7 linked regions of the Homo sapiens genome follow. The protein of the gene in region 4 interacts with the protein of the main gene of each other region in a pairwise test. Each region holds a gene or a part of one and is shown on either strand. Other genes may lie near its edges.

Region 1 (3,706 bases), on a different chromosome or scaffold from region 4:
GTAAAAATTAATTTCATGGTAATAGGTACTATTTATGTATTACCTCAGTCAGGCACACTGAGCTAAACACTTTATGTAAGTTAGTGCATGTGATTCCTCCACAACTCTTGGAGGCCAATACTGTTATTACTATCATCTGTTTTATAGGAGGAAAGTAAAGCTTAAAAGGTTAAGCAACTTGCTCAAGATCACACAGCTAGGTGAGTAGAGGCAGGTTTAAAGGCAGGATTAAAATTTAAATTCCAAAATTTTCTTTGTACTCCTTTTTATCTTCCCAAATATCAGAATTTGTTTTAACTCTTTCAGAGTACTCTTTATCTTGTTCTCTAAAAGTAGGTACATAATCAGAATAGATAATTTAGGTTGAATGCTCACTTAACCCATACTTTAAACTCTGCCAAAGATAAGTACTCTATATTATTTATTCTTAATTTCTTAGGATCTATCACAGAGCCTGGCATAGAGTAGATGCTTAAGAAATATTTGTTAAATGGATCATGAGATATTGTAGAAGTCCAAAAGGCAAATTGCATACATAAAAGTCAAATGTGTACATTTAGAGCGATGACCCAGCAAATCAAAAATCAGCCTACAAGGGTAAATTTTCTAACTAAATGCAATGATTACGGAAGAAACCACAGACTGGCCACATGTCTCAGCATGACTCCCAGAGATGAAATTCTGCCTAACAACAGAGGCATTTTGTCTTTGTTTACAGACAGTGGAATGTCTTTGGCAGGACTTTAATGATTCCACTTCAGCAGCATTTTGACAAGCAAGTTTAGCAATGGATGAGACCAACAATAGCAAATCAACAGTGAAAAGTTCACTTACAAGTCAAGACCAAACATTTCATTTGAATATTTTGCTTGGCAGTAAATAGGGGACTCTCTGAACAGTTATTTAAAATTTGACATGATAATAGGGAAGAAAGAGTACTTCCTCACAGAGCACCTCCATGCACCTTCTGCTCAGCAGACACTGGAAAACAAGTTGATTAGAACACTGTTGGGTCTTGTGTTTGGTTTTATTTTTTTGGTAGAGCTGATTTGATCCACCTCAACTTATGGGTGCCAGGACTGAGTATGTCAAGCATGGAGGGAAATTGGAGAAAAGACAATGGATTAAAAGTTGGGCAGAAATACATTTTAGTTATGCTTCTCCCACTATCTATCTAATTGAGTGACTTTGGGCAAGTCACTCAAGCACCTTCAGTGCTTTCGGTTATAAAGTGTAGGAGTCAGGCTGTATCCTCTACTAGGCCACAGCTCTGTCAAGGTAGGTCTATATCTTATTAATATTTGAGGTTTCAGTCATAAGCACACAATAATATTTTTGGTGAATTGAACATATGTAGTGGATGGATGACTGTATTTATAGTTGAACAGGAGACTGACTCATTTTTCTCAATGGAAGCACTATTTGCATTTTAGGTAGGATAGTTCTTTTTGGTTCTGTAGCGTGTGTCACTTTTGGGGCCCCTAGGCACTAAAGGCCAGCAGTAATCCCATGTGGTTTCTACAAAAAATATGCCTTCTTTGCCAAACACACCCATGAAGGATGCCCCTACTCAGGGTCCCATCCCTTTCCATTTACCAACAATATTCTTTGAACTAAAAGTGATGTTTTTCAAATGCCATTTACTGAGTCTCTCTCCTTTTTACCCCAGGCATATGCTATGATGCTGTCACTGTCTGACAAGGAGTCCCTCCATTCTACATCCCACAGTTCTTCCAACGTGTGGCACAGTATGGCCAGGGCTGCGGCGGAATCCAGTGCTATCCAGTCCATAAGCCACGTATGACGTTATCAAGGTTGACCAGAGTGGGACCAAGTCCAACAGTAGCATGGCTCTTTCATATAGGACTATTTACAAGACTGCTGAGCAGAATGCCTTATAAACCTGCAGGGTCACTCATCTAAAGTCTAGTGACCTTAAACTGAATGATTTAAAAAAGAAAAGAAAGAAAAAAGAAACTATTTATTCTCGATATTTTGTTTTGCACAGCAAAGGCAGCTGCTGACTTCTGGAAGATCAATCAATGCGACTTAAAGTGATTCAGTGAAAACAAAAAACTTGGTGGGCTGAAGGCATCTTCCAGTTTACCCCACCTTAGGGTATGGGTGGGTGAGAAGGGCAGTTGAGATGGCAGCATTGATATGAATGAACACTCCATAGAAACTGAATTCTCTTTTGTACAAGATCACCTGACATGATTGGGAACAGTTGCTTTTAATTACAGATTTAATTTTTTTCTTCGTTAAAGTTTTATGTAATTTAACCCTTTGAAGACAGAAGTAGTTGGATGAAATGCACAGTCAATTATTATAGAAACTGATAACAGGGAGTACTTGTTCCCCCTTTTGCCTTCTTAAGTACATTGTTTAAAACTAGGGAAAAAGGGTATGTGTATATTGTAAACTATGGATGTTAACACTCAAAGAGGTTAAGTCAGTGAAGTAACCTATTCATCACCAGTACCGCTGTACCACTAATAAATTGTTTGCCAAATCCTTGTAATAACATCTTAATTTTAGACAATCATGTCACTGTTTTTAATGTTTATTTTTTTGTGTGTGTTGCGTGTATCATGTATTTATTTGTTGGCAAACTATTGTTTGTTGATTAAAATAGCACTGTTCCAGTCAGCCACTACTTTATGACGTCTGAGGCACACCCCTTTCCGAATTTCAAGGACCAAGGTGACCCGACCTGTGTATGAGAGTGCCAAATGGTGTTTGGCTTTTCTTAACATTCCTTTTTGTTTGTTTGTTTTGTTTTCCTTCTTAATGAACTAAATACGAATAGATGCAACTTAGTTTTTGTAATACTGAAATCGATTCAATTGTATAAACGATTATAATTTCTTTCATGGAAGCATGATTCTTCTGATTAAAAACTGTACTCCATATTTTATGCTGGTTGTCTGCAAGCTTGTGCGATGTTATGTTCATGTTAATCCTATTTGTAAAATGAAGTGTTCCCAACCTTATGTTAAAAGAGAGAAGTAAATAACAGACTGTATTCAGTTATTTTGCCCTTTATTGAGGAACCAGATTTGTTTTCTTTTTGTTTGTAATCTCATTTTGAAATAATCAGCAAGTTGAGGTACTTTCTTCAAATGCTTTGTACAATATAAACTGTTATGCCTTTCAGTGCATTACTATGGGAGGAGCAACTAAAAAATAAAGACTTACAAAAAGGAGTATTTTTCCCCACTGTGTGGTATTTTTCCTTCATGCAATTTTACTTTCCCTTTGGGATCCAATGATTTAAAGATATGATGCTGAGATCTTGATGCCCTACAGATATGTGGAATGTAGAGTATGTTTGTTTTGTTTTGAGATAGCATAAATGATAGTTCTTGGGCAACAATGAGTCTCGCTTATTGTTCTGTACTTTCCCCATGTGGTGCAGTCAGGGCTCAAGTGCACCACAACCCAGTCCTGGTATCACTTCACGTTCACAGCATCCACTTAAATTAGGACAAAGAGCGACTTACAGGTTTTCTACGGATTGTATGCCAAAAGGAACTCAGTTTCTTATTTTTGTTTTTCATTATACGAGTAGTGTTAACTGATTCACAAAGGGGGGAAACCTTTGACTTTTCTATGCTCCTTTTAATTTTTTGTCCACATGCAAAATATCCTTTTTTCATTGTTATAACTGCGTGTAAACAAGATTTATTTTTTCTTTCTTTGCTTG
Region 2 (3,500 bases), on a different chromosome or scaffold from region 4:
GTGACTTCAGTATTTATGTACTGTATATATTTGTTTTCATAATTGAGGACATATTCTGTTTACGTTTTTTCATTTACCTTTACAGGGGACACTTTTTTTTTTAAATTTTTTTTTTTTTTGAGATGGAGTCTCACTCTATCACCCAGGCTTGAGTGCAGTGGCATGATCTCAGCTCACTTCAACCTCTGCCTCCTGGGTTCAAGTGATTCTCCTGCCTCAGCCTCTCAAGTAGCTAGGACTACAGGCACCTGCCACAATGCCCGGCTAATTTTTGTATTTTTATTAGAGATGGGGTTTTACCATGTTGGCCAGGCTGGTCTCGAACTCCTGATCTCAAGTGATGCACCAGCCTTGGCCTCCCAAAATACTGGGATTATAGGCATGAGTCACTGCACCCAGCCCGGACACATTTTTTTGTGATCATTTTCTTAATGTTGGAATTTTATGATATTTCCAATTTTTTGCCTGTTTTTGATCTTGAAGGTACATTCCAACTCCAAAGTTTGGTGGTCAGGCAAAATTATCCTAGGAGCACAATGAATTTGGATTTAGAGGCATGGAAAGAGCAAATTGCCAAGAAGTCAAGCTGTTTCCATCAACTCCTACTTTACAGTGTGGGATAGGGAAGTATTCGTGGGAGTTGGACATAAAAGACCTGGCTTCTGGACCTGGCTCTCCACAGAACCGCCATGTGACCCTGGCTAGGACAGTAAAATTGTCTGGGCCTTGGGGCCTTCCTTTGAAAAATGTGTGCACCCTCAGGGAATTAGGCAATTCTAATGATGGTAAATCTTTTATAAATTGTAAAGCACTGTAGGTTTCAAGGCGACATGATATTTTGCTCCCATTTGTGGAGTACCCACAAGGTACCTTGCAATATCTTGTTTAATTGCCAGTTACTCTGTGAGGTAGCTGCTGTACTCATTTTACAGCTAAAGAAAGTGAGGCTCAGAGAGATACATGGCAGAGCTTAGAATAGATCAGGGTAGTGTCTTTTGTGTCACACCACACCTCCTATTATGGGTTAGTTTTCTGTCAGTGTCTCCAGATCCTCACTGAATTTATTTATGTAATTCAACCAAGACAACTTCTTGGATCAGTGAATTTTGCATTGTTTGACATTCTTAAAACATCTAAATTGGTGTCTGATTCCCAGAGGTGGTGATAGGCATATTAGTAGTCATAATGATAATAGTAACAACAACAATAGTTGCCGTTTACTGAATACTTACTATGTGCTTTGTGTTTATATACATGAACGAATTTAATTTTTACAGGGAGGGCATGGTATCCTCATGTACCAGATTAAGAGGGTGAGACTCAGAAACATAAGTATCTTGTACTTGTCACAGTGCCTCTGCCACTAGCACATATTTGGCACACAGAACATTTGATGTATGACTGAATGAATGATGTTACTGAAGGTCACTCAGCTATCAAGTGTTGGAGCTGGAACTCAGCCCCAAAGCCTGAGTTCTTAACCTCTGTGCTTCATGCCACATAGGTAGCCCAGCTGTGTGCATCCCTCCTGGCCATGGGATGATTGTCATGTGCAGTCCAGACCGTCTTAACAGTCTCTGTTGTTCAAACATTAGCTCATCTCTTATCTCATGTGTTCTCTCCTAGTGGCCTTGTTCCCAGTGTACCAGATGACCTGGATGGCATCAACCCCAATGCTGGGTTGGGAAATGGTCGTAAGTACACAAAACCAGGCATTCTCTTGAGTAAAGAACAAGGAAAGTAGACATTGGACTGTGAGCATCTTGAGCTTTCATATCTCTGGGGCCCAGAGGCTTCCCTGAACTGGCACACCGTAGGTGCTCAGTATTTTTTGTATGTATTGATTTGCTTTCCACCTCCTTTCATAAACACTGGACTAGAGGAATTGTTGTCCTTTTGGCCATACTTCATGAGTTTCATTTGTTGCTACTAAAGCTATAGGGATTCAGTGAGCGTTTGCTGAACTGAACAACTGCACGGAGGCTGGACATTGAATTGGCAGCTAGGCCAGTGGCTGGAGGCCCAGGAGAGCTGCCATCTGGACTGTAGCGTGCCAAGGCCTTCCTGGCAGGCTGCTGGATCCTGTTTGCCGGCTGAGGCCCCGCATTCCTACACGGGCCTGCCCTTTGGAGACAAATAGCTGGTTAGACCACAGGAGACGGCTCTGAGTAAATAAGTAGCGTACTGTGTTTAAGCTGGATTATGAGGAGACTTTGCAGTTTGGGTCTAGCTAAGCATTCTTCATAATTTTTATTTCTGAAAAAAGTGAATGCTTAAGCGTCTCTGTGGGTAGTGCTAGTTTTTGCAAAATATCTCTAAGATATTTTGACTTGTTCTTTTTTTTCTCTTCTCCACAGTGCTGAGATATGTGCAAGAGGAGGGAGATTTTGGAGCAGACAGGAAAAGAGTCCCACGGTTTATTTCTGGAAAATCCCTTAACTTACAGGGCACCTTCATGTTTTCCTGAGGAACCTATTAACTTTTACTTTATTTTTACTTTTTATTTTTTTGAGACATGGTCTTGTCCTGTCACCCAGGCTGGGAGTGCAGAGGTGCGATCACGCACACTGCAGCCTTGACCTCTTGGACTCAAGCAATTCTCCATCTCAGTCTCCCTAGTATCTGGGACTACAGGCGTGTGCCACGACACCTGGCTAATTTTTGTATTTTTTGCAGGACGGTTTTGCCATGTTGCCCAGTCTGGTCTCGAATTCCTGGACTCAAGTGATCCACCTGCCTCAGCTTCCCGAAGTGCTGGGATTACAGGCATGAGCCACTGCACTCATTGGCAACTTTTACTTTAAATGCAAAATCCAACAAGTCTGATTTGAGATGGAGTCTCGCTCTGTTGCCCAGGCTGGAGTGCAGTGGTGTGATCTCGGCTCACTGCAACCTCCGCCTCGTGGGTTCAAGCAATTCTTCTGCCTCAGCCTCCCGAGTAGCTGGGATTACAGGCACGTGCCACCACACCCAGCTAATTTTTGTATTTTTAGTAGAGACAGAGTTCACCATGTTGGCCAGGCTGGTCTCGAACTTCTGACCTCAGGTGATCCACCCGCCGCAGCCTCCCAAAGTGCTGGGTTTACAGGCATGAGCCACTGTGCCTGGCCAGCCTATTTCTTAATTTAGCCGATAGTATACATTTGCTTCATGCCAGACTCTGGGCTCAGTGCTAAAATTCAACCTCAAATGTGGTTACTGTTAAGCTGAGAAGACAGACAAACCCTTATGAGAATTTGTATGGTCAGTGTCAGGAGCAAAGATGTATCAAGTGCTGTGAGAGGGGATTAAAGGGAGATTTCCTCTGGTGTGGAGGTGGGTCAGGCTAGAGTTTCCCAAGAAATTGATATTGGAGCGGAGACCTGAATAAGTCAGATGTAGGTAAGGAAAAAGGAGGGGATGAGCATCCCAGACACAGGTGAGGGCATGGCCCGTTTGAGGAACAGGAAAACAAACTAGCGTGCCCTTCACAGTCTGCCCTGCCCACTCCTTAGCCTCTT
Region 3 (3,500 bases), on a different chromosome or scaffold from region 4:
TGAAGGCTGAGTGAAGGCCTGGTGCCACGGGCCACCCAACAAGTGACATGTTTGACCTGTTTACCCCACAGTTCTTTGTCTTGGATGTTGTCATTAATTTCCGCCGTCTCAGTGAGGGGGATCTGTTCACTCAGTTGAGAAAGATAGTCAAAATGGCTTCCAACGAGGACGAGCGTTTGCCTCCAATTGGCCTGCTGACGTCTGACGGGAGGAGCGAGTGGGCCGAGGCCAGGACGGTCCTCGTGAAAGGTCAGCCGCAGTGCCCAGCACATCTCCATGCCCATCTCATGCTCGTGCCCATTGGCTTTCCCTCCTCTAGGGTTGGGCCAGGGCCTCATCCCCATCAGCCATAGTGTGGGAGCTCAGGGCCCACAGCATGCCCTGCGGCCAGCCACAGTGCCTTGCCACCGAAGCCACCTTTTGTGCCCTCGTGTTCCATCTGACAGTATCTGGCTTTCTTGGTGGGACTAACTAGTGCTGGAATTGGGGATGTCTGAGAATACTGGGCGGGGCGGGGGAGTTAGCTGGAGGAAGGCTGGCTGCAAGTGAGCAGGTGTGTTTTCCTGGTGGGTGGCGCTCACTGATAGTGGCTGGGGGAGTCGCTGAATGGGGGTGTGGGATGGAGCCTGCCTCTGGGAAAGTGGTTCACCACCTCTTTCACCTGATCTCTCCATCCTGGGACTCTTCATCTTCAAGCTGTCCCTTATCTTGTGGCACTGTTCTGATGAAAGTCTCCAAGCATTCCCATAAGAAAGCCAGGAATATTCTTGAAAATTTTTCATCACCCTTCTGGAAACTACTTTCAAATCCAAAGCTGGTCCTATTCCAGGAGCTGATGGAATGCTCTCCTTCCTTGCCCATGTTAGAGACACTGGATGAGAAGCAAGACTTCTGTGAGTCTTTATTTACCCCTCAGAATTTTACTGGGTCAGGCAATCTATTCAGACTCTCCACATCTGTTACTGAGGGCCCTGGGCTTGGCTCAGGGAGTATGGGAGACAAAGGAGTTGAGGCCTCTACCCAAGAGCAGCCCCATGATGGGAACAGGAAGAGGGGGCATGGGGAGGAGACTCACATCCAGGTGCATGCAGTGCTGACCCACTTCAGACAGGCGTCAAAAACGTGCTCCAGGACTTCAGAGAGGGGACGGAGCCCTTCCGAGTGGGATTGTGAAAGGCTCTGTTAGAAGAGGTGGGAATGGAACAAAGCCCCATGGCATGAGTGAGAAAGGCTGGAGGGAAGGATGGTACCCAGGCAGGCAGACCAACCCTGGGCAAAGCCCGAGGCCCAGCAGGGACACACCCACCTTACCCCCAGGGTGAGGAGGAGAATAGCTGCCCAGCAAAGGTGGCCTGAGCCGGATGTACTGGGCCTATTTTTTCTAACAGCCACTTGCATTTTCTGGTCTCTCTCTAGAAGGGTCTTCCCCCAGATCCAGCTGGCTCCTTGCCGCACGCAGAGCTCAGCCCAGGTGTCCGGCCTCAGGCCTGCCTTGGGCATCCTTCCCGCACACTCTGTCACTGTGGCCCGTTCGCTTACCTTGACTCTGTTGCTCACTCTCTGAGGACAACTTTGCATTTGTTTGATAAATGCTGATTATCTGCCTTTCCCCCCACCTCCTACCCACTGCCTATAAGGTCAGAAGGACAGGGGCCTTGTCTGTTTGGTTTAATTTCTGAGAAACACAGTCTGGGCCCAGTTACATTTATTAAATAAAAGAGTGAAGGGTGATTAAAAATGCCAGGCCCCAGACTTATTCCCCGACTTACCAATTAATTATTCTTTCATCCAATTATTGGGCACCTCCTGAATGCTGTCATAAATAGGGGGCTGCAGGAGCCAAAGAGGGGTGTGAGAGCTGACTGCCCTCCCGGACCTAACCTCGTGCTGGAGAATTAATAACTTAGCATTCCGCAGTGAGTTAATTCCCTCGGGAGACCATGGTGTAATCAAATCCCACTCTTCTCCCCTTCAGGGACAGAGACAGGCATCAAAATAATCGCCTCTGCCTCCAGCATAGTTTCCACTTTATTAGCAGGCCAGGCCCAAGACACGCCCTTCAGGGCTGGCTGGATTGCCCCAAGGTCTGAGCACTTGGGCTGCAGATCAGAATTGATTTGTTAATGGCACTTGATCTGGCTTTCTGAATGGAAGTGCTGTTTCTGAGGGAAATGCGACAGAAAGGAGGGGACACATGCGCCTCCCCTTGGGTAATCCGATTAATCCAGTTAGCGCCAACTGTGTCATCTACACAACAGGAAACTGATCCTTCACAGATCCCCCCTCCCCAGAGCAGCCCTGCCTATGGAACAGAAACAGAGAGACCATTTACAAAATGATTTCGGTTTCCCAGTGAAAGAGTATGGCAGCTTGGGACAGGGTTGAGAGTGAAGATGGAGAGACCAGTGACGTCAAGGCCATTGAAAGCGAGAACAATTCCTGGGCTTTTTATCCGAGCCGTGAGTGGATGTTAGTGCCATTTAGTAAGATGGGAAACAGGGTCGGGGAGTGGGTACAGGATGGAGAAATCATTGCCACACATGTTGGGTTAGAGGTGCTTGGGTCATCTGGGTGGAGACGTCAAGCTTAATATATATGTTTGGAGCCCAAGGGAGAGGTCAGTACAGAGCAATAAATTTGAGGGACATCAGCGCATAAATGATCCTTAAAGTCATGGACCTGGGTGAGATAATCTAGAAACAGAAGAACAGGGAGCCTGGAGGTCAGGTAGAGAAGGATGCAAAGGGGATTGAGAAAGAGTAGCCCATGAAGTAAAGGAAAGCCAGAAGAGTCACAAAGATTCAAGACAGAGGGAACGGCCAGCCACATGGAATGCTGTGGAGAGCTGGAGGAGGAACAGGACACAGGGGACCCGGCTTGGCAACCCTGAAGTTGTCACTGGGCTTACTGAGGGTCAGACTGGAGTAGCAGGAGAACAAATGCTTGCACACTGACAGAAGTGATCCAACAGCAGAAAGAAATTGTCGATGAGGCAGTCAGTGAGTTGAACCAGTGAGTATGGTCGACTTTTTCTCAGACATTTTGACACTAAAAGGAGCAGAAAAATGAGGGAGTTGCTAAAAGAGGATGAGGGTCAAGGGAGGTGTTTTTAGGAGGAGAGACAAATGTATGGAAGGAATTTAGTAAAAGAAATTGATGAAGAGATAGGAGATGAATGGAGGGGTGGAATTCTTGCAAAGGCAAAAGGAGATAGAACTCAGAAAATAAGAGGCCTTTGGTTGGTACAGGGTGAAGTGGAAAGCTTGGGCCTGAGGCAGCAGAGGTAGGAGCATGCAGAGGCTCCCAACTGGTACCTCCTGGTCTCAGATCACAACCTTGAGATAAGAGGCGGGCAGTTGGATGTTGAAGATGAAATCGACTGTGTGAAATAGCCTCCTGGAAAGTGGGAAAGAAGACTTGAAAAACTTGATAAGATTTATGGACTGTGTTGAGCTCATATATGAAGGTTCAAAGTGATACATTTTAGGAGAGGCTAATTA
Region 4 (3,500 bases):
TAACACCCACAGTATTAGTATGACATGAACTGTGGAGATATATCAGTAGCAATGGCACCAACTCACCTGTAGTGAGTTGACTACAGGTGAGTTGCAAAACCAAAAAACCCACCATCACTAACACGAACAAACAAAAAAACAGAATTTACTAGGCATGTCCATGTTTTATTTTCTTTAGGTGTTTTTCTGGAAAATTACATTTTCAAGGAATCAGCCCTTACAAACAGAGCTAATCTTTCAAAAAATAAAACCCAGTATCTAGATTCTCAAAACTTACAAAACCAACTGGAAATGTCTGGTTGTCATGCTCAATTCAGTTTCACATCACAAGTAATCATCTATAACTATTTCAGTAGGCAAATTCCAATTCTAAATATTACTAACGATTACCATTGTTATTCTCAACTGTGTTGACAATTGTCTTATTGCTGAATTGTTCATAATACATCTTCTTTGGCAACTTTATTAACACCATGGGACAACTAAAGGTCTGGATTAACTTAGTATTTCAAAACTTCATTATAATTATTTAAAAGTAAATGCTAGACTTAAATTATTTAAATTTAAATGCTAGATTTAAATTATTTAATTTTAATAAAATTTAAATTTAAATGCTAGAATAGGAAAGCCTCCAAACATGCCTAATATAACAAAAACAAAAATTGCTAAATAATCACTACTAAAAGCATTTCCATTGTATGTACAAGTATATAACTCAACTTTACCAACAAAAATATTATAATTTAGCTCCAATTCTCTATCAGACCTACTGTGATTAAAAAAAAACAAAAAATAAATGGAGAAAGCAACATCTGGGCACCTGTCAAATTTTTATGGAAGGTTGTTTTATATAAATTTTAAATGGCTTAAAATCAGCCAGAATGCGAATTTTTCACTATAATACTTTATAAACTTGTACTTTCTTTTTTCTTTCTTTCTTTTTTTGAGATGGAGTCTTGCTCTGTTACCCAGGCTGGAGTGCAGTGGCGCAATCTCGGCTCACTGCAACCTCTGCCTCCCAGGTTCAAGCGAGTCTCCTGCCTCAGCCTCCCAAGTAGCTGGGATTACAGGCACATACCACCATATCCAGCTAATTTTTGTATTTCTAGTAGAGACGAGGTTTCGCCACGTTGGTCAGGCTGGTCTTGATCTCTTGACCTCGTGATCTGCCTACCTCGGCCTCCCAAAGTGCTGGGATTACAGGCGTGAGCCACCACGCCCAGCCTAAACTTGTACTTAAATTATATATTGATAGCTTATTCATTTTTAATTCTTGTTCCATGGAATAAGCCTATTTTTGAGGCTTGGCACGATATTAACAAGAAATTTAAACAGGACGCTCATGTCCAGAAGTTTAACTAAAAAATCTTTTCTATATATAATATAACTACCAACTTAAATTACAAATTGCTTCCACTAAAAATTATCACTCCAAACTTCAGAAAAAGTAAATTAAAATAGGTTATGGCAAAAGGTACACTCTGAAGCATGTTCACATTACAAAGATAAATGATAAAGGTTAACCAGCAAAAATTCAAAAAGGCATATATGCAAACATCTGTATGCAAACTTTCATGAATAAGATATAAGAAATGATTCATTTGGCTAATTTTATGTACAGCTTGTATACAATTTAAAACAAGTACAACTGAATATGTTTCTATGTAAAAGCCACAATAAAGTTAAATGAAATACTAAATAAGTCTTACAAATTGGTCTCTTAGGAGTTCTCAAAAGAATTAGTAACTGAGTAACGTTAGATTCTAAGAAATGCCCTCTTCTTGATCTATCATTTCTGTTTTAACTGAAAACACATCTGCCAACATATGTTTTGGAATTTCTGACCCTCTGACTTTCAAGGCATAACAAGCATTCTCCACTTTGGCCAAACTTTGTTTCAAGGTATACAGCTTCTTAGAAACCTCGTAAGGTCCAGTGTTGCCAATGAATGAAAACCCATCATAAACCTGACGTAAAAACTGGCTCACTTCAAAGGGGGTATCAATGTCCCCATTCCCCACACTGTTAATACACATCCGCATCAATTCTCCAGTTAAGTCAGCCACTCCCAGAAGGTAATCGACAGGTGTGACTCTCAGTCTCCAAGTACCAAACTGCTTATCCTGTGCATCAGAGGAGGGCTGGTAAAAAAACAAAACAAAACAAAAACACACACACACACACACAAGAAAGAACACTGTGAAAAAGAGTGAATATAGCATGTATCACATTTATTATAGAAGTACAAAATCAATAGCAAATCAGTCATACTAATTTTTTCTAAATAAAATAAATCTGTTTTGCTTAATAACCACTTGGGATGTTACAGGAGGAATGTGTGCCCTGGGTAGTGAAATGAACCAGATGACTTCAAGATACTTTTGAAATATATCATTATGAAACCAACTATTTCCAACTCCACTTGATGTACAAAATAAAAATATTCTTGAACAAGGCTTAATAACTTTATTGCACGACAATTACTTTCTTAAATGAAAAACCATACAGCCCTCCAAGTTTGTGATCCATTAATGTTTTCCTAAGAAGCTCAGTCTTTTTCTGGCTTCTTGTCTTTCCCTATTCAGCACTCACCATCACAATTTATTATTCTCTCACTGCATCCTCAATTCCCTTAGACTGCTATATTTTCTACTGCACCTACCCAGCAAAAACAGAATCCTCAATCAATACTAAAATATACTCATTAGTCCTTTATTCAGGTGGCTGAGTACCACTCACTGAGTTAAAAAAAAATGGTAATCACAACTGCAGAGTCTGTACCGCTACAAATTACTCTCCAATCCTTTTACTTATCATTAGATGGTTCTCTTTCCAGCCTCTTCAAACACAATTTCAAACCTTTCACCACTCTCCTCAGGGCTCTACTCAAATCCCAAACCTCTTCACTTTCAGTAGACAACCTTGCCCAATTTCAGTGACCTGGTCATTTGCCAGCTTACCTAGCACAATTTCTCACAACTGCCTTTATCCCTACCAAAAAAAAAAAAAAAAAAAATTTATATCCACACCCATCTTTACCTTCTATCCTCCAGTCTCAGATGATGAGTTGTCCCTCCTCTTGTTTGAGGTTAACTCTTCCAAATGACCTTGACCCATCTCCTCCCACCTCTTCCAGGACCTTGCTTCATAAGGTGTATGCCCTTGGGCAAGTTATTTCATCTCTCTAAACCTCAGTTTCCTCATCTGTAAAATGGGATAACAGTACCTACCTCAGAGGTTTATTTTAAGGGTTAAATGAGAACATTTACCAAGTTCTTGGCATAATGCCCAACACAAAGTAAATATTCAACAAATGCTAGCTGCTATCATGATATCATCATGAAATCTCTCTCCACATCAATTTCCCTCTACTGAATTCTTTCTGGTAGAGACGATGCCTAAATTGTTATTAAAAGACGGTATGTATAAAAGGGTAGGTGAAGTTGCAGTTACATCAAAGGACATTTTAGGTAGTGGGAACTACAAAGGCATACAGGTAA
Region 5 (3,033 bases), on a different chromosome or scaffold from region 4:
TTAGGCTGGTCTCGAACTCCACCTCAGGTGATCCACCTGCCTTGGCCTCTCAAAGTGCTGGGATTACAGGCGTGAGCCACCGTGCCTGGCCCAGCCTCATTTCTTCAGATGAAGATGCCAACCCCGATGATATTTAGGAACCTGCCCAGGGTGACACAGCTTGGGCCAATGTCCGGGAACTGGGTGTCATGAGAAGTGGCACCTGGACATTGCATCAAGTTGAATGGTGTACGTGGAGGCACTTTGAATGGTTCCTCCTGCTCCAGTGCACAACAGAGCTTAAGTAGCTGAGAATGACCCAAAGGCCTAGTGGGAGCTTTGGAGTTGAGCAAATCTGGTTCCAAAGCTCAGCAGTATAACCTTGAACAAATGACTTAGCCTCTCTGCCTCAAGTTTGCTCAACAAGATGGTCCCTGCCTACATTCATAGGGTTCCTGTTTTAGAAAGGAGTTTAGTCTCAGACTATGATTCTTACACATGTGTCACTAGCCCGGCATGCACAGAAAGAAACCAGAGGTTTGGTAAAAACTGTGGGACTTGGAACTGGCTACCAGTGCTAATGGGGCCCAGAGATGGCCATTGCAGTGAGAGACCCACATTTGAAGTGAGATGCAGTCTGGCCTCTTGTCTCCCCACTTGGAAGGACATGGTATCTGACCTCCAGGCTGGCTGACTGACTGTCCTGGGTAAATGAGCAGCTGGTCTGGAAAGGCCTGTTGAGGGGACAGGAAGGGATCCAGAGCTGGACTTTCCTGCATGGAGGTGGGCCGCAGGTTGCCGGTCATAGGCTGCTTGTCTTTCCCACCCTACCACACAGGCCAGCTTGCTTGGGTTTCTGCCTCTGTAAAAAGGGCCGGCATGAAAGTCCACTTACCAAGTGAGTGTGGGACAATGTCTCCAAAGCTTAGGATTCTTGAGGGAGAGGTGTCAGGTAACATAAGGCAGCAGGCACATCGCACCTCAACCTTACAGAGTTGGACACAGTGTGAAGGGAGGCTGGCTGGTGGGGTGTACATGGCTGTATAAAAACTGATTCAGCCGGTCGGGCGCGGTGGCTCATGCCTGTAATCCCAGCACTTTGGGAGGCCGAGGCGGGTGGATCACGAGGTCAGGAGATCGAGACCATCCTGGCTAACACAGTGAAACCCCGTCTCTACTAAAAATACAAACAATTAGCCGGGCATGGTGGTCGGTCCCTGTAGTCCCAGCTACTCTCGGGAGGCTGAGACAGGACAATGGCGTGAACCCGGGAGGCGGAGCTTGCAGTGAGCCAAGATTGCACCACTGCATTCCAGCCTAGGCGACAGAGCCAGACTCCACCTCAAAAAAAAAAGGCCGGGCACGGTGGCTCACGCCTGTAATCCCAGCACTTCGGGAGGCCAAGGCGGGCGGATCACAAGGTTAGGAGATCGAGACCATCCTGGCTAACATGATGAAACCCGTCTCTACTAAAAATACAAAAAATAAAGTAGCCGGGCGTGGTGGCGGGTGCCTGTAGTCCCAGCTACTCGGGAGGCTGAGGCAGGAGAATGGCGTGAACCCGGGAGGTGGAGCTTGCAGTGAGTGGAGATCACGCCACTGCACTCCACACTCCAGCCTGGGTGACAGAGCGAAGACTCCATCTCAAAAAAAAAAAAAAAAAAAAAAAAAGTTGGTTCAGCCTTATCGTCTGCTGCTCTTTTTTTTTTTTTTTTTTTTTTTGAGACAGGGTCTTGCTCTGTTGCCCAGGCTGGAGTGCAGTGGTGTGATCACAGCTCACTGTAGCCTCCCAGGCTCAGGCATCCTCCCGAGTAGCTGTGACCACAGGCATACACCACACCTGGCTAATTTTTGCATTTTTTAAAGACAAGGTTTCACCATGTTGCCCAGGCTGATCTTGAACTCCTGGGCTCAAGCAATCCTCCTCCCTCAGCTTCCTAAAGTGCTGGGATTACAGGCATGAGCCACCGTGTTCAGGACTTGCCACTTCTGCATGTCAGTTCTAACCTCACCCCTCCCCTGACTCTCCCGACAGGGACTTCTGGAGCCCCGTCCTGGACAGGAGACAGAGGAAGAACCCTGGAGTCGGAAGCCAGAAGCAAAAGGCCCCGGGCCAGTTCCTCAGACATGGGGTCCACAGCAAAGAAACCCCGGAAATGCAGCCTTTGCCACCAGCCTGGACACACCCGTCCCTTTTGTCCTCAGAACAGATGAGCTCAGGGTAGGGTAGAGAACGCCACTTTCTCAGACCTGTCCCCTTTGTGTTTAGAAATGAGTTAACCAGGACCAAGTGGCCATTTAGTGTCCTGGAAACTTAGAGGACAGTGTTGGCCTTTGGAGTCGGGCCTTCTTGTGTTAAGGGGCACAAGGTCCAGATCACTCTGGAGCAGGCCAGCTCTGCTGGACAGTGACCCTCTTCCCAGGCCTCAGGAGTGACCATAGCCACTGCTGAAAAGTCACGCAGCTGCTCCCTCGGACCCCCCAAGGATGGTTGCTGTTAGCAGAGGATTGGTGCAGTCCCAGCTGAAGCCCACTGTGTGCCAAAGGAAGAAGCTCCCAGGGCTGCTTCCTTCACCTGCAGAAAGCCCCAAGTGAGCCACCAGCACTCATGGGGCAGTCCCTGTCCAGGCTGCCCAGGGCTTCTCATAGACGTCCTGAGAAGGACGGTGTAATGCAAGGAAATGGCTGTGGTAACACTGATCCTTCAGAAGAAGCTTCATTCCCTCTTAATCTAGTTAAGCCAGGACATCCAGAATTCATTGCTTTAATAAAGAACCCAGGCCGGGTGCAGTGGCTCATGCCTGTAATCCCAGCACTTTGGGAGGCTGTGGGGGGCGGATTGCCTGAGCTCAGGAGTTCGAGACCAGCCAGGGCAACATGGTGAAACCCTGTCTCTACTAAAATACAAAAAATTAGCCAGGTGTGGCGGTGTGCGCCTGTAGACCCGGCTACTCAGGAGGCTGAGGCAGGAGAATTGCTTGAACCCGGGAGGCGGAGGTTGCAGTTAGCTGAGATTGCGCCACTGGACGACAGAGCGAGACTCAGTCTCAAAAA
Region 6 (3,500 bases), on a different chromosome or scaffold from region 4:
AGATTCGCTTGAACTCAGGAAATGGAGGTTACAGTGAGCCAAGATCGCACTACTGCACTCCAGACTGGGCAACAGAGCGAGACTCAGTCTAAAAAAAAAAAAACAAAAAAAAGAATAGGCCTATTTCCTTTTCTTAGAAAATGACAACTAAGTTATCTCAGTTTTTTCTCTTTTTGCCATGGCTTCCAGGAAGCTCACTTAGAGAGTCTGATCCATCAGCTTCAAGTGAGCTTCTCCTTCCCACATAGTCATGGGCTGACCTTCCTGGGACTACAGAGTTGTCTTCCAAGAGATGCTCAGAAAGGTGCTCAGGCTGGAAAATACATAGGACTCTGCAAGGTTCAGGGTTTCAGGGATACTCCACCCAGTCCGTAGGAGCCTTTTCCTGCTTCAGGCTCATTATGAAGAGCAAGGAGAAGCTCAGCAGGCTTAGAAGGGGCTCAGAACTACCCAGAATTCCCTGAGGATCAAAGAATCCTAGCAATTCAATAACTACCATTCACTCTAACCCTCCCGTTACAGATGGGGAAGCTGTGGCCAGAAGGTAGAAATCTGTCCAAGGTCACACAGGAACACTGGTAGAACTGAGACTTGAACTCAGGTCCCCTGAGTCCCAGAGATGTGTCATTATCATCATAATCATCCTCCTCCTCCTCCTCATCCTCACCCAATGTGGACCATGCCTTAAGCTATGGCTTTTCATGTATTTAATCCTTTCAACAACCCTGTGAGGCACCTTCATTTTACATGTGAGAAAACTGAGAATCAGAGAGGTAAAATGACTTATCCAAGATCTCACAGCCAGAATAGAGTGGATCCACAATTGAAACCCAAACTGCCTGGCTATAGAGACTGCTGCCTTCCTGCTACATACATGAGTAGTTCCATTAAATTACATAAATTGTTAAATTCCCAGTGGAATTTAGTACAGAAGAAAAAATAATTTATGCAGATGAGTTTATAAGTTTCCTTGGATCAGGCCATGAGAATGTCCCAAACTTCCTTATTTCCCTTCTGGCCTTGGCTGCCAAGAAGCCTGGAACCAAATGGAATGCCCCAAACCCATATCCTCACCAGCTAAGTGATATATGGACCACTCTGCTTTTGACAGGGCTCAGTCACTCTCCTCCTACCCAATCCCATGCTTGCTCAGGCCTAGACCCACCTCAGAGGCATAGGAATCATTGTCTTCAGCTCGGTAAGGCCTGAAGCTCCGGCTGGGGTCGGGCTTAGAGTCCAAGTCACCAGTGCGGAAAGCCTCTCGGATCCTGGGCTCCCATTCCGGCAGGTCCCTGAAGTCAGGTGGCTGCACCCAGAGGCACAGGCAGAACAAACCAAAGATCACCATGGGGAGGGGCCCGAGGGGTGCCAGAAACACCCACCCCAGGCCTCTGCGCTCCCTAAGAGGCTTGAACCACCCACCTGAGGGCTGGGACCCTGGTAGATTCACCTCTGCAACCCAGACCCAGCCCCAGCTGGGGGCACTGCTGCCGTTTAATGAATGTTTGCTGAAAGGATGAATGAGTAGGTAAGTGCGAAGTGATTTTCTGAATGTGTGCCTTGTGCACAAACCTTTTGAGTCAGCCCAAACTGTCCTATCACATGTGTGACCTCTGTTCATCCCTCTTTCAAGAAGAACCAAAAGGGAGATAACATAGAGCAGTCTATGGGCACAGTGGCATGTGCCTGTAATTCCATCTACAATTTGAGGCTACAGCGAGCTGTGATCATACCATTGCCCTCCAGCGTGGGCAACAGAGCAAGACTGTTTCTTTAAAAAAAAAAAAAAAAAAAAAAAAAAGGCAATGTGCTTGCTTAAAAAAGCAAGATGAAACCGGATCAACAGGTCTTGAGTTAAAGAAATTATGGCACATATCCACTGTATAGTTGTTAAAAAGAAAGTGCTAAATCTCAGAAGGGCACGATGGCTCACACCTGCAATCCCAACACTTTGGGAGGCCGAGGCAGGTGGATCACCTGAGGTCAGGAGTTCAAGACCAGCCTGGCCAACATCGTGAAACCCCATCTCTATTAAAAATACAAAAATTAGCCAGGTGTGGTGGGGCATGCCTCTAATTCCAGCTACCCAGGAGACGGAGACAGGAGAATTGTAATTTCAGCTACCCGGAAGGCGGAGACAGGAGGCGGAGGTTGCAGTGAGCTGAGATCGTGCCACCGCACTCCAGCCTGGGCGACAGAGTAAGACTCTGTCTCAAAAAAAAAAAAAAAAAAAAAAAAGATAAAAGAAAAAAAGAAAGTGCTAAATCGCTCTCTTTCCCTGGAAATGAAAAATTCCCTGCCATTGCTCTGAGGATGAAGATCAAACCTCCCGCATGCTCAGTGCAGTCCAGCTTCACATTGTCTCTTCACTCAGTGTCCTGGACACACCACGCTCCTTCCGCCTCTGATCTGAGCTGTGTCTTTGCACAGGCTATTTGCTCTGCTGAAAACACTGTGTTCCCCCAGCCATCCATCCCTCTGACCTCTGGTCAGATCAGAGGCCTTCCCTCAGCATAGGGTCTAGGTCAAGTTCCTTGTTCATAAAACCATGTACGCTTCCTTCAGATTCCTCTCTCAGTGTCTAATTGCACATTCACTGACATGATATTTTGGGTGACTCTGCCCCACTAGATGATAAGGACCATGAGAGGGGGAATCATATCTGTTTTTGCTAATCATGACATCTTCAGCAGTGAGCACAAAAACTGTGTGAACAACAGACAAGGCATCATAAATTAACAAACTGATACATTGCGTTAAAAATATAAGTTGTGTAGTAACAATAGATATAAAGCAATCTGGGTGGAAAAACAAATATATGATAGATGTGTAGAGAAGGATTTAGAAGGACAAGCTGCAAGGATGAAATATTCTAGATCCACTCTACTAGACACACACAAATACTGAACATTTAAAATGTGACTATTAGGCCACACACAGTGGCTCACACCTATAGTCCTAGCACTTTGGGAGGCTGAGGCTGGTGGATCACTTAAGCTCAGGAGTTCAAGACCAGCCTGGGCAATATGGCAAGATTCCATCTCTACAAAAAAATTTAAAAATTATGGCCAGGCACAGTGGCTCACACCTGTAATCCCAGAACTTTGGGAGACAAAGGCGGTCGGATCACTTGAAGTCAGGAGTTCGAGACCAGCCTGGCCAACATGGTGAAACCCCATCTCTACTAAAAATACAAAAATTAGCCAGGCATGATGGAGGGCGCCTGTAATCCTGGCTACTTGGGAGGCTAAGAGAGGAGAATCGCTTGAACCTGGGAGTTGGAGGTTACAGTGAGCCGAGATTGCGCCACTGCATTCCAGCCTGGGTGACAGAGCGAGACTCCGTCTCAAAAAAAATAAAAAATAAATAAAAATTAGCTGGGTGTGGTGGTGCTCACTTGTAGTCCCAGGTACTCAGGAGAGTGAGGGGGGGAGAATGGCTAGAGCCCAGGATATCGAGGCTGCAGTGAACTGAGATTGCACCACTGCACTTCAGCCTGG
Region 7 (3,500 bases), on a different chromosome or scaffold from region 4:
GTTCAAGGCCTCCCTAGGAAACATAGCAAGATCCTCTCTCTTTAAAAAAAATAAACTTTCCAATGAATAAGCTCAACAGTTCAAGACCTTAAATGCCACATTTCAAGAAGACTTCAAATATCGGTGTTTTTATGTCTTTTCATATTTTTTGAAGTAAAATGTTTGGAATTTCCTCTAAAACAAAGGGGGTGGGCCACAGTGTCACCAGAGAAAGCAAGGCTGGTGGTGTGCTGGTAGCTGTTGAAGGTGGCAAGCTTACACTGGGTTCCTTCTGATTGGTTTGGTTTTGTTTTGTTTTTTGGAGACAGTCTCGCACTGTCGCCCAGGCTGGAGTGCAGTGGCGCAATCTCGGCTCACTGCAACCTCTGCCTCAAATTGGGTTCTTTAAAAAAAAAAAAAATTTTTTTTGTTGTAAATAAGGGCCAATTACCTGACCACATGCAGATACACTTAACCAAGTGCCCACTTCCAGGGTTCAGTTAGTCCATCCCTAACCTTGGAAAAGCCTCGGCCTTTGCTCACAACAGGCCACCCAGCACTGCAGCAGACAGGGGCACTGTGTGGCTTTCCAGTTCTGTCACTGTTCCCCCACCCCAGGCCCCATGCACAGCCTTTACTTCCCCCATGGAACCCTGACTGCATCTAGGCGACAGCTGACCTCTGACCCCTCACCCATTTGTGAACTAGGCCAATGGATCTGACTTCCAGTAACATAGAACACCTCTGCTCCAGACCTAGGAGGGGAAAACAGGCCTGAAACTGGAAATCTAAATTTTAGCTGTATGTTCCATCCCCTCTTTTTGGGAACTAATGACATCCTCTCAAGCAGTAAAGCTGACTCCACTGGAATGGTATTGTTTAAGCCAGTGGGGGTGAGCAAGGTCAGAATGATCACACACAACGGGGGCAAGCACGCCACATGCACAGTGACCTGAGTCCCGCAACCTCCTCTCTCCCAGGTTCCTCAAACCCAGGATGTCTAGTCCCGCTTTTAAAACAGCCATCCTAGGAGAAACTACTAGAAGCCCTGGAGCTCCCCAGCACTCGTGGTTACCTAAATCAATTCAAATCTTCACGAGAAAAGTAAAAATCTCTTAGAAGGGCCCAAAATCCAGTAGGCATCAAAAACAAGTCACTTGAGTCCATACTGTGCTACCCTGAGGAGGATCCCAACACCCACTCCGCATTCCGGCATGCCCGCTCAGGGTCCTTCAGCAGCTCGCTGTCACTCACCATCCGACAGCACTTCATATGCCTCCGCTACTTGCTTGAATTTTCTCTCTGCTTCTTCTTTATTCTCAGGATTTTTATCTGGATGCCACTTCAGTGCCAGTTTCCGATATCTTGGAAAGAATAAAGGATATAGATCACATTCTAAATCCAGAAATCAACTATGCTTTTGAAACTAACATCATTAACCACGAGAATGGCTTCAGAGCTGCCAACTGGTGAGATGAATACTGGTTTTAACTGTAAAACCTCCCTTTCCTCTACAATGAAATACACAAAGTTCTAAAATCCAGATAGCCAGGCGTAGTGGCGTGCAGCCACAGATAGACCCAGCTACTCCAGAGGCTGAGGCGTGACAACTGCTTGAGGCCAGGAGTTCAAGGCTACAGTGAGCTATGATCACACCACTGCAGTCCAGCCTGGGCGACAGAACAAGACTGTCTCAAAATTAAAATTGTAAAAATACTCATTAAAGTAAGTTTTAGAATAAAAATCCTGATAGCATAATACAAACGAACCTCTAGAGATAGAAAAATAAAGATCACAGTGTCCACAACGTGGACTGACAGTGACAAGACTGAGCAAGTATGTGAAGTAAAGGAGAAAGGCCAGGCGTGGTGGCTCATGCCTGTAATCCCAGCACTTTGGGAGGTGGGCAGATCACCTGAGGTCAGAAGTTCGAGACCAGCCTGGCCAACATGGAGAAACCCCAACGCTACTAAAAATACAAAATTAGCCGGGCATTGTGGTACTTGACTGTAATCCCAGCTACTCAGGAGGCTGCGGCAGGAGAATCACTGGAACCTGGGAGGCAGAGGTTGTGGTGAGCCGAGATCGCACCATTGCACTCCAGCCTGGGCAACAAGAGCGAAACTCCGTCTCAAAAAATTTTTAAAAAGGGAAAAAAAGGCCTGGGTCACTGAGCAGCAAGATCCAACATCACCATTCATATCCTTCCATGTTCTGATTCCCAGGACCCTACTTCCTCAGCCAGCCCCACTACCTAGCTCATCTGTGTGCCAAAGGTGAATCACCTGCCACCCAACAGGCCAGGATCTCAGAATCTTTCAAACACCCTCTGTGCCAGATTCAAGATCTAAACAGAGTTAAAACACTGACTTCTACAAAGATTCTATGACCAAGGTCATATTCTGTTGCAGAGTTCCAACTGACCAAATAATTGCACGCTATTTAAATACAAAAAAAAAGGCCGGGTGCAGCGGCTCACACCTGTAATCCCAGCACTCTGGCAGGCCGAGGTGGGTGGATCACCTGAGGTCAGGAGTTCGAGACCAACCTGGCCAACATGGCAAAACCCCATCTCTACTAAAAATACAAAAAGCCGGACATGAAGGCACGCACCTGTAATCCCAGCTACTCAGGAGGCTGAGACAGAAGAATTGCTTGAACCCAGGAGAAAGAGGTTGCAGTGAGCCAACATCGTGCCACTGAACTCCAGGCTAGGTGACAGAGCGAGCCTCCGGCTCAACATGAATGCATGAATGAATGAATGAATGAATGAATGAATACAAAAAAATCCTCTAGTCTAATTAGCAAAACCTAAGCAGCATATATTCAAAAGGAGGGTAACGTTAAAAAAGAGAAGCAGCATACCCCTCAAAATTTCAGACTAGTATACTAATCTGACAGTGCTTTTAACACTAGGCAAGTTATTACTGTAAAGCTGTTGTGGCTCAATTTAACTTACAACATGTTCAACAAAACCTTGGCTTAACCATACTAAAATCTGATTAAAGCTGGAGTCCAGAATACTTAACAGTAATTTATGTCACTGTGGACCTAAACAAACATGTAGCAGCCGGGCGCAGTGGCTCATGCCTGTAATCTCAGCACTTTGGGAGGCTGAGGCAGGCAGATCACGAGGTCAAGAGATCGAGACCATCCTGGCCAACATGGTGAAACCCCGTCTCTATTAAAAATATAAAAATTAGCTGGGCATCATGGCAGGCGCCTGCAGTTCCACCTACTCGGGAGGCTAAGGCAGGAGAATCGCCTGAACCTGGGAGGCAGAGGTTGCAGTGAGCCGAGATCACGCCATTGAACTCCAGCCTGGGTGACATAGCGAGACACCGTCTCAAAAAAAAAAAAAAACGTGTAGCAGTGGATCAAATAACCCTAAATGTGCCAGAAATCCTCAGTCAAAAATAACAGACCATACAAAAGACAAAAGAGAAAAAATGATTAGTGTGCAGTACTACCTATCATCTAGTGTTCATATGAAAACTTGGCAATGGATGAGAATGCAGGAC

Evidence for each region.
Region 1: the proteins of TSNAX (region 4) and MECOM interact in a two-hybrid assay, tested with the Homo sapiens proteins (one study listed by BioGRID).
Region 2: the proteins of TSNAX (region 4) and CDK5RAP2 interact in a two-hybrid assay, tested with the Homo sapiens proteins (one large-scale study listed by BioGRID).
Region 3: the proteins of TSNAX (region 4) and CHAT interact in binary tests that used the Homo sapiens proteins (3 or more experiments, as listed by UniProt).
Region 5: the proteins of TSNAX (region 4) and TOP3A interact in a two-hybrid assay, tested with the Homo sapiens proteins (one large-scale study listed by BioGRID).
Region 6: the proteins of TSNAX (region 4) and MTCL2 interact in binary tests that used the Homo sapiens proteins (3 or more experiments, as listed by UniProt).
Region 7: the proteins of TSNAX (region 4) and DNAJB6 interact in binary tests that used the Homo sapiens proteins (3 or more experiments, as listed by UniProt).

The regions. Positions count from the first base shown.
Region 1 is NC_000003.12:169,083,007-169,086,712, reverse strand, and holds the end of MECOM (histone-lysine N-methyltransferase MECOM), read left to right. Parts: intron 1-1,669; coding exon 1,670-1,804; 3' UTR 1,805-3,206; downstream 3,207-3,706.
Region 2 is NC_000009.12:120,570,168-120,573,667, reverse strand, and holds part of CDK5RAP2 (CDK5 regulatory subunit-associated protein 2), read left to right. Parts: intron 1-1,626; coding exon 1,627-1,694; intron 1,695-3,500. UniProt on the Homo sapiens protein: Potential regulator of CDK5 activity via its interaction with CDK5R1. Negative regulator of centriole disengagement (licensing) which maintains centriole engagement and cohesion. Involved in regulation of mitotic spindle orientation.
Region 3 is NC_000010.11:49,627,537-49,631,036, forward strand, and holds part of CHAT (choline O-acetyltransferase), read left to right. Parts: intron 1-71; coding exon 72-249; intron 250-3,500. UniProt on the Homo sapiens protein: Catalyzes the reversible synthesis of acetylcholine (ACh) from acetyl CoA and choline at cholinergic synapses.
Region 4 is NC_000001.11:231,563,169-231,566,668, reverse strand, and holds the end of TSNAX (translin-associated protein X), read right to left. Parts: intron 2,142-3,500; coding exon 1,764-2,141; 3' UTR 145-1,763; downstream 1-144.
Region 5 is NC_000017.11:18,273,962-18,276,994, reverse strand, and holds part of TOP3A (DNA topoisomerase 3-alpha), read left to right. Parts: intron 1-2,014; coding exon 2,015-2,193; 3' UTR 2,194-3,033. UniProt on the Homo sapiens protein: Releases the supercoiling and torsional tension of DNA introduced during the DNA replication and transcription by transiently cleaving and rejoining one strand of the DNA duplex.
Region 6 is NC_000020.11:36,811,539-36,815,038, forward strand, and holds part of MTCL2 (microtubule cross-linking factor 2), read right to left. Parts: intron 1,307-3,500; coding exon 1,166-1,306; intron 1-1,165. UniProt on the Homo sapiens protein: Microtubule-associated factor that enables integration of the centrosomal and Golgi-associated microtubules on the Golgi membrane, supporting directional migration. Preferentially acts on the perinuclear microtubules accumulated around the Golgi.
Region 7 is NC_000007.14:157,361,004-157,364,503, reverse strand, and holds part of DNAJB6 (dnaJ homolog subfamily B member 6), read right to left. Parts: intron 1,344-3,500; coding exon 1,234-1,343; intron 1-1,233. UniProt on the Homo sapiens protein: Has a stimulatory effect on the ATPase activity of HSP70 in a dose-dependent and time-dependent manner and hence acts as a co-chaperone of HSP70. Plays an indispensable role in the organization of KRT8/KRT18 filaments.